Homo sapiens: one gene and its partners. The protein of the gene in region 4 interacts with the protein of the main gene of each other region in a biochemical or structural test. Each region holds a gene or a part of one and is shown on either strand. Other genes may lie near its edges.

What was found. Proteins that work in one complex are often made in the same cells at the same time.
Region 1: the proteins of MAGI1 (region 4) and SLC2A7 interact in a test that uses a peptide from one of them, tested with the Homo sapiens proteins (one large-scale study listed by IntAct).
Region 2: the proteins of MAGI1 (region 4) and SLC17A1 interact in a test that uses a peptide from one of them, tested with the Homo sapiens proteins (one large-scale study listed by IntAct).
Region 3: the proteins of MAGI1 (region 4) and ATRNL1 interact in a test that uses a peptide from one of them, tested with the Homo sapiens proteins (one large-scale study listed by IntAct).

Annotation. Positions count from the first base shown.
Region 1 is NC_000001.11:9,023,624-9,027,762, reverse strand, and holds the start of SLC2A7 (solute carrier family 2, facilitated glucose transporter member 7), read left to right. Parts: upstream 1-1,339; 5' UTR 1,340-1,417; coding exon 1,418-1,468; intron 1,469-2,688; coding exon 2,689-2,787; intron 2,788-4,139. UniProt on the Homo sapiens protein: Probable sugar transporter. Even if its physiological substrate is subject to discussion, it is able to transport glucose and fructose. Does not transport galactose, 2-deoxy-d-glucose and xylose.
Region 2 is NC_000006.12:25,815,053-25,818,552, forward strand, and holds part of SLC17A1 (sodium-dependent phosphate transport protein 1), read right to left. Parts: intron 1-3,500. UniProt on the Homo sapiens protein: Important for the resorption of phosphate by the kidney. May be involved in actively transporting phosphate into cells via Na(+) cotransport in the renal brush border membrane. Plays a role in urate transport in the kidney.
Region 3 is NC_000010.11:115,302,865-115,306,364, forward strand, and holds part of ATRNL1 (attractin-like protein 1 isoform 1 precursor), read left to right. Parts: intron 1-3,500. UniProt on the Homo sapiens protein: May play a role in melanocortin signaling pathways that regulate energy homeostasis.
Region 4 is NC_000003.12:66,032,419-66,035,918, reverse strand, and holds part of MAGI1 (membrane-associated guanylate kinase, WW and PDZ domain-containing protein 1), read left to right. Parts: intron 1-3,500. UniProt on the Homo sapiens protein: Plays a role in coupling actin fibers to cell junctions in endothelial cells, via its interaction with AMOTL2 and CDH5. May regulate acid-induced ASIC3 currents by modulating its expression at the cell surface.

The DNA of each region.
Region 1 (4,139 bases), on a different chromosome or scaffold from region 4:
CCTAATTTATTCAATCATTCTCTACTTTAAAAAAAAAATGCTAGTAGAAATGATTCTGAAATAAGCACCTTTGTCCAATATTTTATTGACTTATTTAACACTATTTAGTGTAATTAGAAATAATAACTGTGTTTTTCTGAAAGTGTTTAATTTGTTCTTTCCCCCAAATGGACAATTAGTCCAAATGCACAAGAGGAGGCATATATGAAGAACCTAGGAACACACAGAAAGGAACAGCAAACACTGGGATCTACTTCCGGCTGGAGGGTGGGAGGAGGGAGAGGAGCAGCAAACAAACACTGGGAAGTGGGCTTAATACCTGGGTGATGAAATAATCTGTACAACAAACCCCCGTGGCACGAGTTTACCTATGTAACAAACCTTCACATATACCCTGAACCTAAAATAAAAGTTAAAAAAAAAAAAAAAGCCAGGTGCGGTGGCTCATGCCTGTAAGCCCAGCACTTTGGGAGGCCAAGGCAGGCGGATCACTAGAGGTCAGGAGTTCTAGACCAGCCTGGCCAACATGGTGAAACCTCATCTCTACTAAAAACACACAAAAAAAGGCTGGGTACGGTGGCTCACGCCTGTAATCCCAGCACTTTGGGAGGCCGAGGCGGGCAGATCATGAAGTCAGGAGATCCAGGCCATCCTGGCTAACACGGTGAAACCCCGTCTCTACTAAAAATACAAAAAAAAAATTAGCCAGGCATGGTGGCAGGCACCTGTGGTCCCAGCTACTCAGGAGGCTGAGACAGGAGAATGGCGTGAACCCGGGAGGCAGAGCTTGCAGTGAGCTGAGATTGCGCCACCGCACTCCAGCCTGGGCGACAAAGCGAGACTCCACCTCAAAAAAAAAAAAAAAAAAAAAAAAAAGCTGGGTGTGGCGGCACGTGCCTATAATCCCGGCTACTTGGGAAGCTAAGGCAGGAGAATAGCTTGAGCCCAGGAAGCCGAGGTTGCAGTGAGCTGAGATTGCGCCACTGCACTCCAGCCTGGGCAACAAAGGAAGACCCTGTCTCAAAAAAAAAAGAGGCATACATGGAAAAATGACACAGAAAAAGCATCCTAGATCCAGGTCACAGCCTCACTGGGTCTCTGAAAGTCCTCATTTCTGCGGACCAATGTCAGGCAATGTTTTTTCTCTCTCCTTGGTGCAACTAGGGAGCTTTCGGCTTGGGGCTTGGTGGGTGCAAAGACGAAATTCGTGCTGTGTATGATTTGTGCACTGGCAACGTGTGTCTTATCAACATTTCCAAGGAGAATTTGCTCCTGGGGAAAGTCAGCAGGGTCCAGAGAGCAAAAGGATCATAAAGCCAGGTAGGCCCAGGGGAGAAACAGCCGGTCTTTAGGTGGCTGGCGCAGAGCAGGTGTCACTTGGGAGGTAGAGCACACCTGTTCTCCCACCTGAACAAGGATGGAGAACAAAGAGGCGGGAACCCCTCCACCCATTCCATCCAGGGAGGGGGTAAGTGCCAAGACTAGGAACCTGTCACTGTCCCTCTCCCACCAGCTGTGCAGACCTGTGGAGGGAGGTGAAGGCCGTGGAATGCTTTTAGCAAGGAGCGGGTAGCGTGCTTCCTTTTTCTTCAGGATAACCAGGCCTGGGAGAGCCATGTGGAGAAGCAGCTATGCTCAAACCTCATGGCTCAGACATGGGCCAGGGTGGCTGAGCGAATGCTGGGAGAGCGGATGGTGCTGGAGATGCCTCTCTCCCTTCCACCCCTGCTCCCCTCCGCTTCCCCTACCCTTAAAGATCGAGGGGAGATGGCCTCTGAAGAATGCCCGAATCCTGCCCTTCTGTCTGGTTGTTCCTGGATGTGCAGAGCTACGGGCTGTGGGCAGCCAGGCAGCTAAGTGTGAGGGTTGGGGTGAGGACATGTGGAACAGGAGTGAGGGGTGGAGGGGGCAGTGGGGAGGGGGCATGCACCAGGGCCTTGGCTCTAGGACATGGTCAGAGACCCTGCCCACCTGCTCCTCAGACTTTGGCCCTCAGGCCAGTTCCCCTCCAAGCTGCCCTGGGTGTTGTGGCAACCATGGAAAGCCTGGCCCTGAGCACAGGCGACTGCCGGGATTTTCCTAAGGGCCTGTTCTAGAGGCAGAGGCAAGCAATGAGTCCCTCTGTCTGGGATGCTCTTCCCCCCGATGCTTACACAGCTGCTCCCTCTCATCCATTCTGGTCCCGGCTCAAAGGGCGCCTGCTCAGAGAGGCCTTCCCTGCCCTGCCCACCCTACTGAACACAGTCTCTCATTCCTCACAGGCTGCTACCCCACCCATCACCCTATTTTATTGTCCTCACAGCATTCTAGCTATTTGGAATTATCATCTTTGTCTTTCTTGGACGGGGTGGGCTCCCCTCACTAGAAAGTGAGCTTCTTAAAGGCAGTGCTTTGCTGGGCCTTTTTCCTAAAGCATCCCCTACTTCACACTTGGCCTCCAGGGCCTAGTACAGGGCCAGGCACGTAGCAGATGCTCAGATACATCCTCAAGGAGGGAATGAATGCGTGCAGAGACCTCAGCCCCCAAAAGCCCCAGCCCTGCGCCACCTCCTCCTCTTTTCCGGGGGCACGGCCTGGGATCCCCCATCCCCCACTTCCAGCCCAGGCTGGAGGGAGGTGGAGGCCCAGCCACTCCACTTCCCGAGGCCCAAGCCCACAGCGTCCCGACCTTGGACTTGTCTCCTACAGCGGCTCCAGCCGACGCTGTTGCTGGCGACACTGAGCGCGGCCTTTGGCTCAGCCTTCCAGTACGGCTACAACCTCTCTGTGGTCAACACGCCGCACAAGGTGGGCACAAGGTGGGCACAAGGTGGGCCGGGCAGCAGCTGACCGGGGTCGTGGGTGGAAGGTAGCCGCCATCTTCCTCCGTGGAGGCTGCCATCTTGCCTGTAGGAGGCACCATCTTGCCTTTGGGAGCAGCCAGCTTGCCCTAGTACCCTGGATGCTCACCCCTGGAGACCAGGGCGTGGCAGGAGGTGTTTCCCCCTGGAGTGTCGTCCTTTCCGGGCACATTGGGATGCTGGGGGACCTGTTCCATTTTCCAGCCCAGTCTTTTTGGGCCTCAGGTCCCACTGCTCTCACCTTGGGTAGGCCCCTTGTTGATTGGAAAGAGAATGGGGTCAAAGATTGAACTCTGTGGCATTTAGGGATTGGGGCAAAGGGGAAAAAAGGAAAAAGAGAAGGGGCCCTTGCAGGTGTGGAAGACCCTGAGGGCAGAATGTCCCCAAAACCTAGTAAAGGATGAGAGTCAAGGAGGGAGGGACAGCCTGTGCTGATGAGCTCAGATGAGGACTGAGAACTGACTACAGGCTTGACCTTGGTATACGTCTATGCTTACGCTTGTATACATATATTAGCATGTCTACAGACACTGTATTACATTTGTTTGTGTATTACGTATATATACATATATTAGTGTACTTACAATTATTACCATGGATGGAACCTCCGAGTCAAGCAATGTACCATCACTTAATCACATTTAATGCTAACACATTCTTTATAAGGTACATCTTGTTTCCATAACTGATGAGGAAATTAAGGTTTCTGGAGGTTCTGTAACTTGCCTGAAGTCACACAATTAGTAAAAATATTTCCTGGGCTGGGAGCGGTGGCTCACGCCTGCAATCCCAGCACTTTGGGAGGCTGAGGTGGGTGGATCACCTGATCACCTGAAATCAGGAGTTCAAGACCAGCCTGGCCAACATGGTGAAACCTCATCTCTACTAAAAATCCAAAAATTAGCCAGGCATGGTGGCGGGTATCTGTAATTCCAGCTACTCGGGAGGCTGAGACAGGAGAATCACTTGAACCCGGGAATCAGAGGTTGCAGTGAGCCAAGATCATGCCACTGCACTCCAGCCTGGGTGACAGAGTGAGACTTCATCTCAAAAAAAAAAAAAAAAAAAAAAAAAAAAAAAAAAAGAAGAAGAATATTTCCTATGGTGCCTCTGGCAGAGTAAGTCGTAAGTCTCTCAAAAGTAAAATTTTTTTTTTCTTTTCTTTTCTCTTCTTTTTTAATAGAGACAGGGTCTCCCTATGTTGGCCAGGTTGCTCTTGAACCCTTGGCCTCAAGCAATCCTCCCGCCTCGGCCTCCCAAAGTGCCAGGATTACAGGTGTGAGCCATTCCCAGCCAAAA
Region 2 (3,500 bases), on a different chromosome or scaffold from region 4:
TGTAGGACAATTATAAAAGCTGTAATATACATGTAATAAAAAAAATCACAAGGTGTGATATACATGTAAAGAAACATACTGGAAGGAAGAAAGAAAGAAATAGAGAAAGAGAGAAAGAGAAAAAAAAGAAAAAAGAGAAAGAAAGGAAGAAAGAAAAAGCAAGGAAGGGAGGGAGGTAGCAAGGGAGGGAGGAATGAAGGGAGGGAGGGAGGGGAAAGAAAAAAATTAGAAAAAATATTTAAAGCAATAATTACTGAGAATTTCTTAAAATTAATAATAAACCTCAAACCACAGATATAGGAAGCCCAGAGAATGCCAAGAATAAATAAAAAAAAAAGTTACAACCTGACATGTTGTAACCAAATGACCCCAGTTTTTTAAGAAAACGGGAATGAAGTACTATTTTTTGTTTTCTGAGACGAATTACTATTTTTTAAAGCTTTCTCTTCTTTTCCCCTTTCCCCTTTTCCTCTTGCTCCTCATTTCCAACTTAGCCCTTCAGAAATGCAAATACAACGTTTCACCTCCTCCCCTCACCAGACATTCGCTATAGGAAAAATTCTCCTAACTACGTGCTTCAAGACACAGCTCTCCTCCAGAGCTGACAGTCAATTTGCAGACCAAATTGCCAGGGAACTTTCATCTCTAGGGCGTGGCCTCGGAACTTCCACTCTCCAGGAGTGGTCTTGGAACTTTCTTCCACCTGGAGAGCATATTGAAAACATGCCCTTTTTGGTCACTTTTTCAATCTACTTCTGTCCATGTAAGTGCTACCTCAACTGTGCAGTAGATAACTGCCCGGTAGCAAGGGGACCCCTGCCCTTGCTCATTTCCTCCCCTACCATATGAAAATGCTTACTTTTTTTTTTTTTTTTTTGCCACTTCAGCTCCAAAGGTGAAACGGCACAGTTAAAAGCAAGAAATTTTGTGTCCCTTCCCCAAGCTAGCTTTGGAATAAATCCACTTTTCTTGTACCAGACCCCACTCTTGTTAATTGGACTCTACATGTGGTAAGCAACTAACTTGATTTTCGGTTACAATATAATATTCAACTTCAGTAAATCAAAGACAATTTTGAAAGAAGCCAAAGGGAAAAAAATGACCTGAAGAGTCCTGTTTAAATTTAGAATTCTGAACACAAATCTCTGGCGACTAGACTGAAGCTTGACCTATTCCTACCCAGACCCATTCCCACCTCACTAGGTACTTTGAATGGATATATGTGGAAACTCTTGGCTTCCCCATTGTGCACCATTCATATCTTATGCAAATAGTGCCTCCTACCTCCCTTGGTCACTCCCCAGTTGAATGGATGTTGGGAAGAGCCCTGCTGGTCTTTTCCAATATAACCAATAGCCTTGGTTCTATTTAAGCAAGACATTCCAGGCATGATGATTAGAAGCAGAGCCATGGGCTCTACTGAGCCTACTGTCTTGGCACCTGCCCTATGAAGACAGCCTAGCTAGAGAGGGGCTAGAATGGGCTATCCACAGTGTGGAATCTAGGGCAAGCGCCCTCTGGCCTGGGCCTCAGGGCAGCGGTGACAGAAGCCATAAGTGATCTTGGCAATAGCTGTGTTTGATGCCACATACACTAGTCAGATGTGAGTTAAGGAGAGCGTGAGATGCTAGGAAATGTAGGCAATGGGTACAGACAGATTATGCAATGATTTCAATGGTCAAAGGGAGGTTACTTGAGACAGAAGACAGGGAAAGGGAATCATTTTAGAGATTTGAGAAGAGTTAAGAAGTTTGAAATAGTCTTTAGGAGACAAATATAGCAGGATGGCCAGGCCATTTTTTTTTTTTTTTTGAGACGGAGTTTCACTCTTGTTGCCTAGGCTGGAGTGCAATGGCACGATCTTGGCTCACTGCAAACTCTGCCTCCCGGATTCAAGTGATTCTCCTGCCTCAGCCTTCCGAGTAGCTGGGATTATAGGTGCCTGCCACCACGCCCAGCTAATTTTTTGTATTTTTAGTAGAGATGGGGTTTCACCATGTTGGCCAGGCTGGTCCCGAACTCCTGACTTTAGGTTATCCACCCACCTCAGCAACCCAAAGTGCTGGGATTACAGGCGTGAGCCACTGTGCCCAGCTGGCCAGGCCATTTTAAGTGCAAATGTAAGTCTGTGACTCAATTTACTCTACTTGGTAATCTCCAGCAATTATCAGCTGCTTAAATACAGTTATTGTCGTATTCTTTAAAACAGTATCTATTCAGATTTGTTCAACTTTATTGGCAAGAATATTCCAATGGAATTTTAAAACAATCTTGGTTTTAGTTTTCCCTCTGCCACTAACGAACAGGTCGTTTGACATACGTGGACATCATGTAATTTATAGTAAAAAGGTTGTGGGAGGCAGATACCTAAATTCCTAAACAGCTGTCATCTAATCCCTTTTCCTCAATTCTTAGTGATAAGGAAAAAACATGTGAGGGACTTCACAGTAAAGCTATTATCATAGTACAATGTGTAGTTGTGTAACACCTTCGTTTGAGTTTCATGAAACCACCCATGATAACTGTAAGTGGCATACATTGCTGTACATGATCTTATCATAGAAATACAACATAAATATTAGATGTCATTCAACCCTTGATCAACAATGTTGGGCAGCATTAGTTATTCAAAAGTTTTCCTTATATGGAGCTGAAACCTCACCCCTGCTCCCCTGCTCCGCCGTAATTTCTGTATATTTGGGTTAGTTTTGTAATTCAAAACAGGTCTGCATTTTATTTATATAAAGTCCTACAAGGTATGTTCTCTCAAGTTTTCTCTTCTTCAGGCTAGACATTCTCAGTTTTTTCAGCCCCTTTCCTGATAAGGGGCTTACGTTCCATCACTATGCTGACCATTGTCTACTACTGAAGACTAACTAACACAGTCATTAACAGCAATGGAATTTTGAGGATGGAAGACATGTTTTCAGATTATGCCTCTGCCATCTGCTCACTGTATATATTGGATGTCTTCTGTTTGTCCCCCTAGATGTACTCCTCATCCTTCTTCACCTTACTTTGGCTACAGATGGCTGATGTGAATGAACATCAGTAGGCCCCCATGTCCTCTGCTTCCACCTGGATTTGGCCAACAGAAATTCCCGGCAGAGATGAGAGGGAGAGAATTGAGTGAGATCAAGGTGTCTTTTCAAACCCTGGTTAGCTCTGTCTTATGATTGCCTCAATCTATGTGTCCTTTTATGAAAAATCATGAGTTCTTTGAAGGCATCCTGCTCTATAGGGCTCTCCTAATGGATTCTGATAACTACTTCCTTGCTTGATGCCTTTGGACCTGGGGATGCTAGATATTCCGAGCTCCTGTATCGCTAGCCCCAGGTAACTGGACTATTCCTAGAATTTCACCGGATCTCATACCTACCTTTTTAAGTGATCACTTTGTAAATAAATTCTTCCAATTTTGCCTTAAGTATATGACTTTGATCAAGTTACCTAAGCCTTTTGAAGTTTCCTCACGTATCAAATGGACATAATAGAACCTA
Region 3 (3,500 bases), on a different chromosome or scaffold from region 4:
AAAAGTGCCAATCTTAGCTAGCTTCTTCATAGCAGAGAATATGGTTTATCTTTCTGCAATCCACTCTTTGACACTGACGCTCATCAAAAATATGCCTTTTCACCTGAATTAATTGGTATGTTCAGATTTGGAACAAAAAAGTAGAAAGTTTTACTTACTCCTGCTGCTCTCATGACCTGTTTCTCAATGTTGGTTGCATTCATTCATATCCCACTCATTGGTATCTGTCCCTCTTGTAATTAATCCAGACTTTATGTCCTTTTTTTTTTGAATAATATACTTTTCAGGGGCCCAGTAGTTACCATTCTACCACCATAGAAAGCTGCAGAATCACCTGAGATAAAGTTGGTATGCAGGTTTTTTTTTTTTTTTTTTTTTGAGATGGAGTCTCACTCTGTGGCCCAGGCTGGAGTGCAGTGGCCTAATTTCAGCTCACTGCAACCTCCACCTCCCTGGTTCAAGTGATTCTCTTGCCTTAGCCTCCCAAGTAGCTGGGACTACAGGCATGTGCCACCATGCCCAGCTAATTTTTGTACTTTTTTTAGAGATGGGGTTTCACTGTTGGCCAGGCTGATCTCGAACTCCTGACCTCATGATCCACCCAGCTCGGCCTCCCAAAGTTCTGGGATTACAAGCGTGAGCCACCGCGCCCGGCCGGTATCCAAGTTTATGTCCGTTGAGGATGCTTTGATTTGAACAAAGCAAAATATCAGTTATTTGGTAAAGTCCAAACAGACAAATAAAATCAGAAGTTCTTTTGCTTCTTTTTCAGTTCCCTTCTTCTCAACATCTGAGTGTCCAGGAAGCTCACAAAGAAAAAAGGAGCAAGACTCCTTGGATTTTTTTTTCTTCCAATACTTTAACCTGCAGTAAACAGGATTTGAAATGAGTGAATCTAATTAACATGTTGGTGTGTTTGATCCAGGTTCCAAAGAAACTGTAGTTACAGTTCAGTCAAAGGAGACAAAATAACAGCCACTTGGAGTCTGGTGTATCTATTAAACTCAGGAATATGTTGTGGTTGAAATGTATTCAATGAGATAGGGAAAGCAACAGTTTCCCTCTCTATACAGGAATTCTCTCCAGGGGATCTTTATCCCGATTCTAATTCCTTTCTCCTAACAGCCCTAAGTTCTCCACTATCATCATCTCTCTTCATTTGTCATATTTGAAACTTTTAAAGGTCAAAGGTCCATTTTAGGTTTTTGCATCAGTCCACTGGTTTCCCTCTGACCCTTTCTCTCCAGGAAACAGCCACTTGGAGTTTTCCTAGGAGTGTAGGCCATAACACAGCTTGTTTCTATAACGTTCATAAGTATCTTCAGGACTTTCTTATTAGATCATTGACTTTCTTGCAGTCCCTCCATAGGAGCAGCCACTGGCAGCCTGACTGATGAAAATACAAACAACTATCCCAGCAGCAATATTTATTTTCTGCCCGTCCACTCTTCCTTCCCTCCTTTGAGCTTTCTTGTTTTTCCTCTGAGAGGCAACCCATTCTAGTTAGCAATTATAGTAATGATATGGCTCCCATGAGTGGAGGAACACCAGGGCTCTTGTCTCACGTTGAATTAGATTAAACAATACGGACACACGTGGAGTGGTTTTAAGGAGCAGAGAGTTTAATAGGCAAGAAAGAAAAGAAAAGGCAGAAGGTTCGCTCTTACAGAGACAGAGGGATGGGGGCTCCACAGCCGAAAGAGGAAACCCCAAGTGTGGTGCGTACCAGGCAGGTATATGTAGAGGCTGGAGGAGGGGGTGTCTGATTTGCATAGAGCTTAGGGGATTGGTTTGACCAGGCTTTCATTCAGGTAGCCCTCGGAAAAAAACTGGCCTTCCCACCCTAGCCTTTTAATATGCAAATGCAGGGCACCATGATGTTCTACACACATGGGGATATGTGGGGCGGCCATATTCCCAAATACATGTGGGGCAAGGGCAAGAGGACAAAGGTGGGAATCGCCATGTTGAGTGGACCCAGTTTCTAATGGCTTGCATATGCATACTAAAGGTTGCCGGCTTGGCTCTAAGAGCTGGGACTTTTCTGTTAGACAAGAAACACTTTTGGAGGTGTTTTAAAAAGAAATGAAAACTTTCCAAGGACTCCTTTTTTCTCTATCTGCCTAAAATAATTTCTTAATAACTTCTATCACAGTAACTTCATAATTCTGAGATCCCTGTTGGTGGTAAATCTAGTATGTTGAAGCCTGTAAGTGTATGGCCCTTGGACAACATGGTCACCCAGTTGATACTAGTCCTTCTTGCTCAGATGAGTCATCTTCCCATTTAGAGGTAGCCACTGCATAAGGCAATGCACGTAGAGACTTACTGACTTTCTAGGCCTTTCATCACTCTCAGTGGTCCAGTCAAATATGTATTTGGTCCATAGTGGGCACCACTGTTACTTGAAGAGCTAAGGCAAAACAGTAACACAATGCAGGCTGGAATCCCAGCTGCAGCTGTTGTGTTCATTTGTTCCTTCAGGCTCTTGGCATGAAGTGGAGAGGTATGCCTGGGATGGACATGGTTGGATGTATTATGAGTTGAGCTCCCTGTTGATATCCTTTTTTAGGGATTGTGGTAAGGAATGGGGGTGTTGTACCTGATCAAGTGGGTGGCAGTGTGGTGGTTGCAGGCATAAAATGGCCTTTGTGCATAGCAAAACATTTCAAAACTAGGAGCCAGCTGCCCAGGAGAGTTGAATACAAGAGTTGAAGACTTGTGGGGAATGAGACAATGCGCACCTTCTCCTGCCTCAATAGTCATGCTTGTCTCTCGACAAACATTATTGTTCAATGAAAGAAGCTAGACATGAAAGATTACATACTGTTTGACTACATTTAGGTATAAAGTTAAAAAATAGTCAAAACGGCACTGTATTGTTTAGAAATGCGTATTTAGGTGGTAAAACTATAGAGTAAGGCAAAAGTGTATTCTCAAAAATGTCAGCTAGAGGATGTTGCTGGGGGAAGTTTAGGGGTGCTGATTAGGAAATGAAACAAGAGAGGCAATGCTCCACTTCTAGGCTTTGTGCAGGTCCAGAGTGTGTGTTTATAGGAATTTATTAATCTTATATTTTTCTTTATGTAATTGTATGTGTGTTATATTTCACAATAAAAGAGGCTAGAAAGTAGGGAAAAACTGGTTTGTGAAAGTCTAAGCTCTTATACTCTTAACAACTTTCTAAAAATTATTTAGAATTAAGCTTATGTTGTCACAAATTTTTCTTATATCCCATTCCTTCTCATTTGTTCTACTTTTTTGTTTTTTTACAATTTTTTTTGGTGGTATAACACACATAACATAAATTTTACCATTTTAACCATTGGTAAATAATCTTTAGTAATTTCTTTCAAATAAATTGTGACATAAACTTTTGAGTCTTTGCATGTCTAAAAGTGTACTTTTCATTTTCACTTGAATGATAAAATGGCTAAATGTGGTATTCCAAATAATTTTTTCCTTGGAACCTCTTTAGCACTCAGTGTTGTGGATAAGAA
Region 4 (3,500 bases):
ACTAGTTGCCAAATTTCTGGGAGGCGATGTCCCAGGGCTCTCTCATCATGGAGTTTAGGAAGGCTTGGTGAGATAATCAAGTGGGTTTGGAAACAGACACCTCTGAGTTGAAAGGAAACTGTAGTGTCTCCAGGTGTTAGCTCTCTTCACCCCTTGTGCACAGATTGTTCACAGCAGGGGCGAGTGTGTGGGTATGTTTCTGTGTGTGTGTGTATATGTATGTATGGATGGATGTACGTGAATCTACTTGTAATGGGATAGAAATATGATACTGATTGGGAAACCTGAATGGCCTGGAATTCATTGCAGTCTGAAAGTGACTATTTCATGTAATAATTACACAGGCACAGTTGGATCTTCTGACGTCTTCATTACCAGTAATGATGGCCCTAGAAACCATTTCACCAGTTTTCTGCTCCCTCTTCCATGTTGAGAATATGATTTAGATTGTATGACAGAATTGCTCTTAATGTGTCTTCATTACTGTGCCTTTTAAAGTCATATCAAGCAGGCTCATACTTGGTATATGGTAAAGAAAAATACTACTTTTGTGTTGTTTGCATCCCAAGTTAGCCACTTCCAGGGACACAGATCACTCTGGATACTGTCTACATGGTGGGAGAAAATTCTGTTTTTCTACTTCATGGCAGTTCTCTGGAAAGATACATGGACCAAAACTGTCTGTGACAGGACTGGATTGTGCAGGAATCAAACTCAATGGATCTGCCAGGTTGGACTTGGTTCATTTTAAATGGAGAAGACAGTCCTTTGTCAGGTTGGAGTTGGTTCATTTTAAGTGGGGAAGACAGTACTTTGTCATAAAATGCCTTTACAAAGTTATATATAATTATGTGTATTCAGGTATCATTTACCTATAGTAAAATGCATATCTTAGATATATAATTTGATGAGTTTTAAGCGATGTATGCACTCATGTTAATCACTCAAATGAAGATAGAGAACATTTTCATCACCCCAGAAATTTTTCTCATGTTCCTGTCCAGTTAATTCCCCCCTCCCCCTGCACCATAGATCTACCATAGAATAATTTTGTCTTCAACTTCATAAAAATGAACTAATGCAGTATGTACTCTTTTGTGTTTGGCTTTTGTTACTCAACAAAATATTTTGGAGATTTCGTTTTGTTGCATGTGTACTTCATTTGGTTCTTTTTTTATTGCTAAGTAATATTCCATTGTATACACATACCAGTTTGTCCTTTTGCTTGTTTATGGACATTTGGAGTATTTACCATTTTTTACTATTACGAATAAAGCTGTTATTAATGTTTCAGTTGCTCTACATCTTTGGCCATCTTTGATTTTGTTTGTCTTTTGAATTTTAGCCGTCCTAGTATATGCTTCGGAAAAATGTAATTAAGGAAACTTTGATACAGGATATAAGATGTCGCTAGTATGTATTAAGATCTTGCCTTAGAATATAATAGGTGCTTGGCTAAGCTGATGCTTCGTGGGCATTCTCTTTTTCAGTCCTTACAATTGGACTCAGATGTTAGAAGCTGAGGTTCAGAGAATTTGGGTAACTTTTCCAAGGGTCATACCACAGTGGCAGTAGAGCTGCAACCCAGCTCTGTCTGATTCCAAAGCCTGTGCTCCCAATTCCTGGGACAGTAGGTCTCCAAGTGAGGTCCTCAGACCAGTGGCATTAGTATAGTAACCTGGGAACTGGTTAGAAATCCAGATTCCTGGGCCCCACCTTAGTTCTACCAATTCAGAAGCTTTGCGGGGGATGGGGTTGGGGTTGGGGGGTGGGGTAACAACCATGGGGTGTTTTAATAAACCCTCAAGGGATTCTGATGGGCTTATTAAGGGATTCAAGGGTTCAGTTTTAAGAACTACTGTACTAGGGTATAGACCAAAATTGAGAAGATGACATCAGATGAGACAGGTGACCTGGGTTCTAGAATAAGCTCTGCCAGTCACATTCTTGGAGCCTACATTTCTCTATGCCAAAAATAAGTGGGTGAGCCTCTTCAGGTTATTTGTGCTCGTGAAATCCTTTGTTTCCATGAATCACCCAGACTCCAAAGGTTTAAAATGGTATGATTGTAGTTTCCCAAAGTGGTGTATTACAGGTCATGCTTACATATTTTTGCAGGTGAATTTTGTGGTTTTTCAAATTACCCAGGAACTGTAACTATCCCTCTACTTTTTGTGTATGTGTGGCAGTGTGGAGATAATAAAAGAGATACAATTTAAAAGCCAAACCAAACCACCACCAGACCCTTCCCCTCACTGTAATGAGGGAAATTGTGATCACATATGGTTGAATATAGTTCTTTGTGTGGTTTTTTGTTTTGGTATTGTTTTGATTCATTGGAATGTATGACAATAACTCTCATTTTAAAACACAGGGCCTTGTCTTTCAGAGTTGTTTGGTTTCTCATGAATCTCTGGTCTTGCTTCTTTCTCCTCAGTGACCTCCTTCTGGTGTGCTGTAAAATGCTTAACAACCAGTGCTAGTAGTGGGTAGACCCTGATTTATAGCATAGCTGGAGTTGGGAAGAGACGCGTATACTTGCTGTTCCCAAGCCAATGTGAGCTGGCCCCCACACACCACTGACTGCATATAAGATAGTGCCCTTGTGGTGGCTCACCTGTAATCCCAGCACCTTGGGAGGCCAAGGTGGGTGGATCACTTGAGCTCAGGAGTTTAAGACCAGCCTGGGCAACATGGTGAAGTCTCTACCAAAAAATACATAAACTAGCTGGGCGTGGTGGCGAACTTCTGTAGTCCCAGCTACTCGGGAGGCAGAGTGGGAGAATCGCTTGAGACCAGGAGGCAGAGGTTGCAGTGAGCCAAGATTGTACCACTGCACTCCAGCCTGGGTGACAGAGTGAGACCCCCATCTCACACACACACACAAAAGATAGCTCCCTGAGTAAAGTGCCATTCCCTCACCCTGTTTGTTCCTTCATAGCCTTGACACAATCTCGTATTATCTTCTGTTGTTGTTGTTGTTGTTTTTTTTTTTTTTTTTTTTGAGATGGAGTTTCGCTCTGTTGCCCAGGCTGGAGTGCAGTGGTGCGATCTCGGCTCACTGCAACCTTTGCCTCCCGGGTTCAAGCAATTCTGATGCTTAGCCTCCCGAGTAGCTGGCATTATAGGCATGTACCACCATGCCTGGCTAATTTTTTGTATTTTAGTACAGGTGGGGTTTCGCCATGTTGCCCAGGCTGGTCTCTTGAGCTCAGGCAATCTGCCTGCCGCCTTGGCCTCCCGAAGTGCTAGGATTGTAGGCGTGAGCCACCGCAACGGGCCCTGTTTCTTCTTTATTGTCTGTTTCCCCTCCCATGAGAATAGAAGTTCCATGAAAACAAGAAGCTTGTCTCTCTTGTTCACTGCTGTATTTCTCAGTGTCTAAAAAAGACCCAGCAGGGCCAGGCGTGGTGGCTCATGCCTGTAATCCCAGCACTTTGGGAGGCCGAGGTGGGTGGATCACAAGGTCAGGAGTTCAAGACCAGCCTGGCCAAGATGGT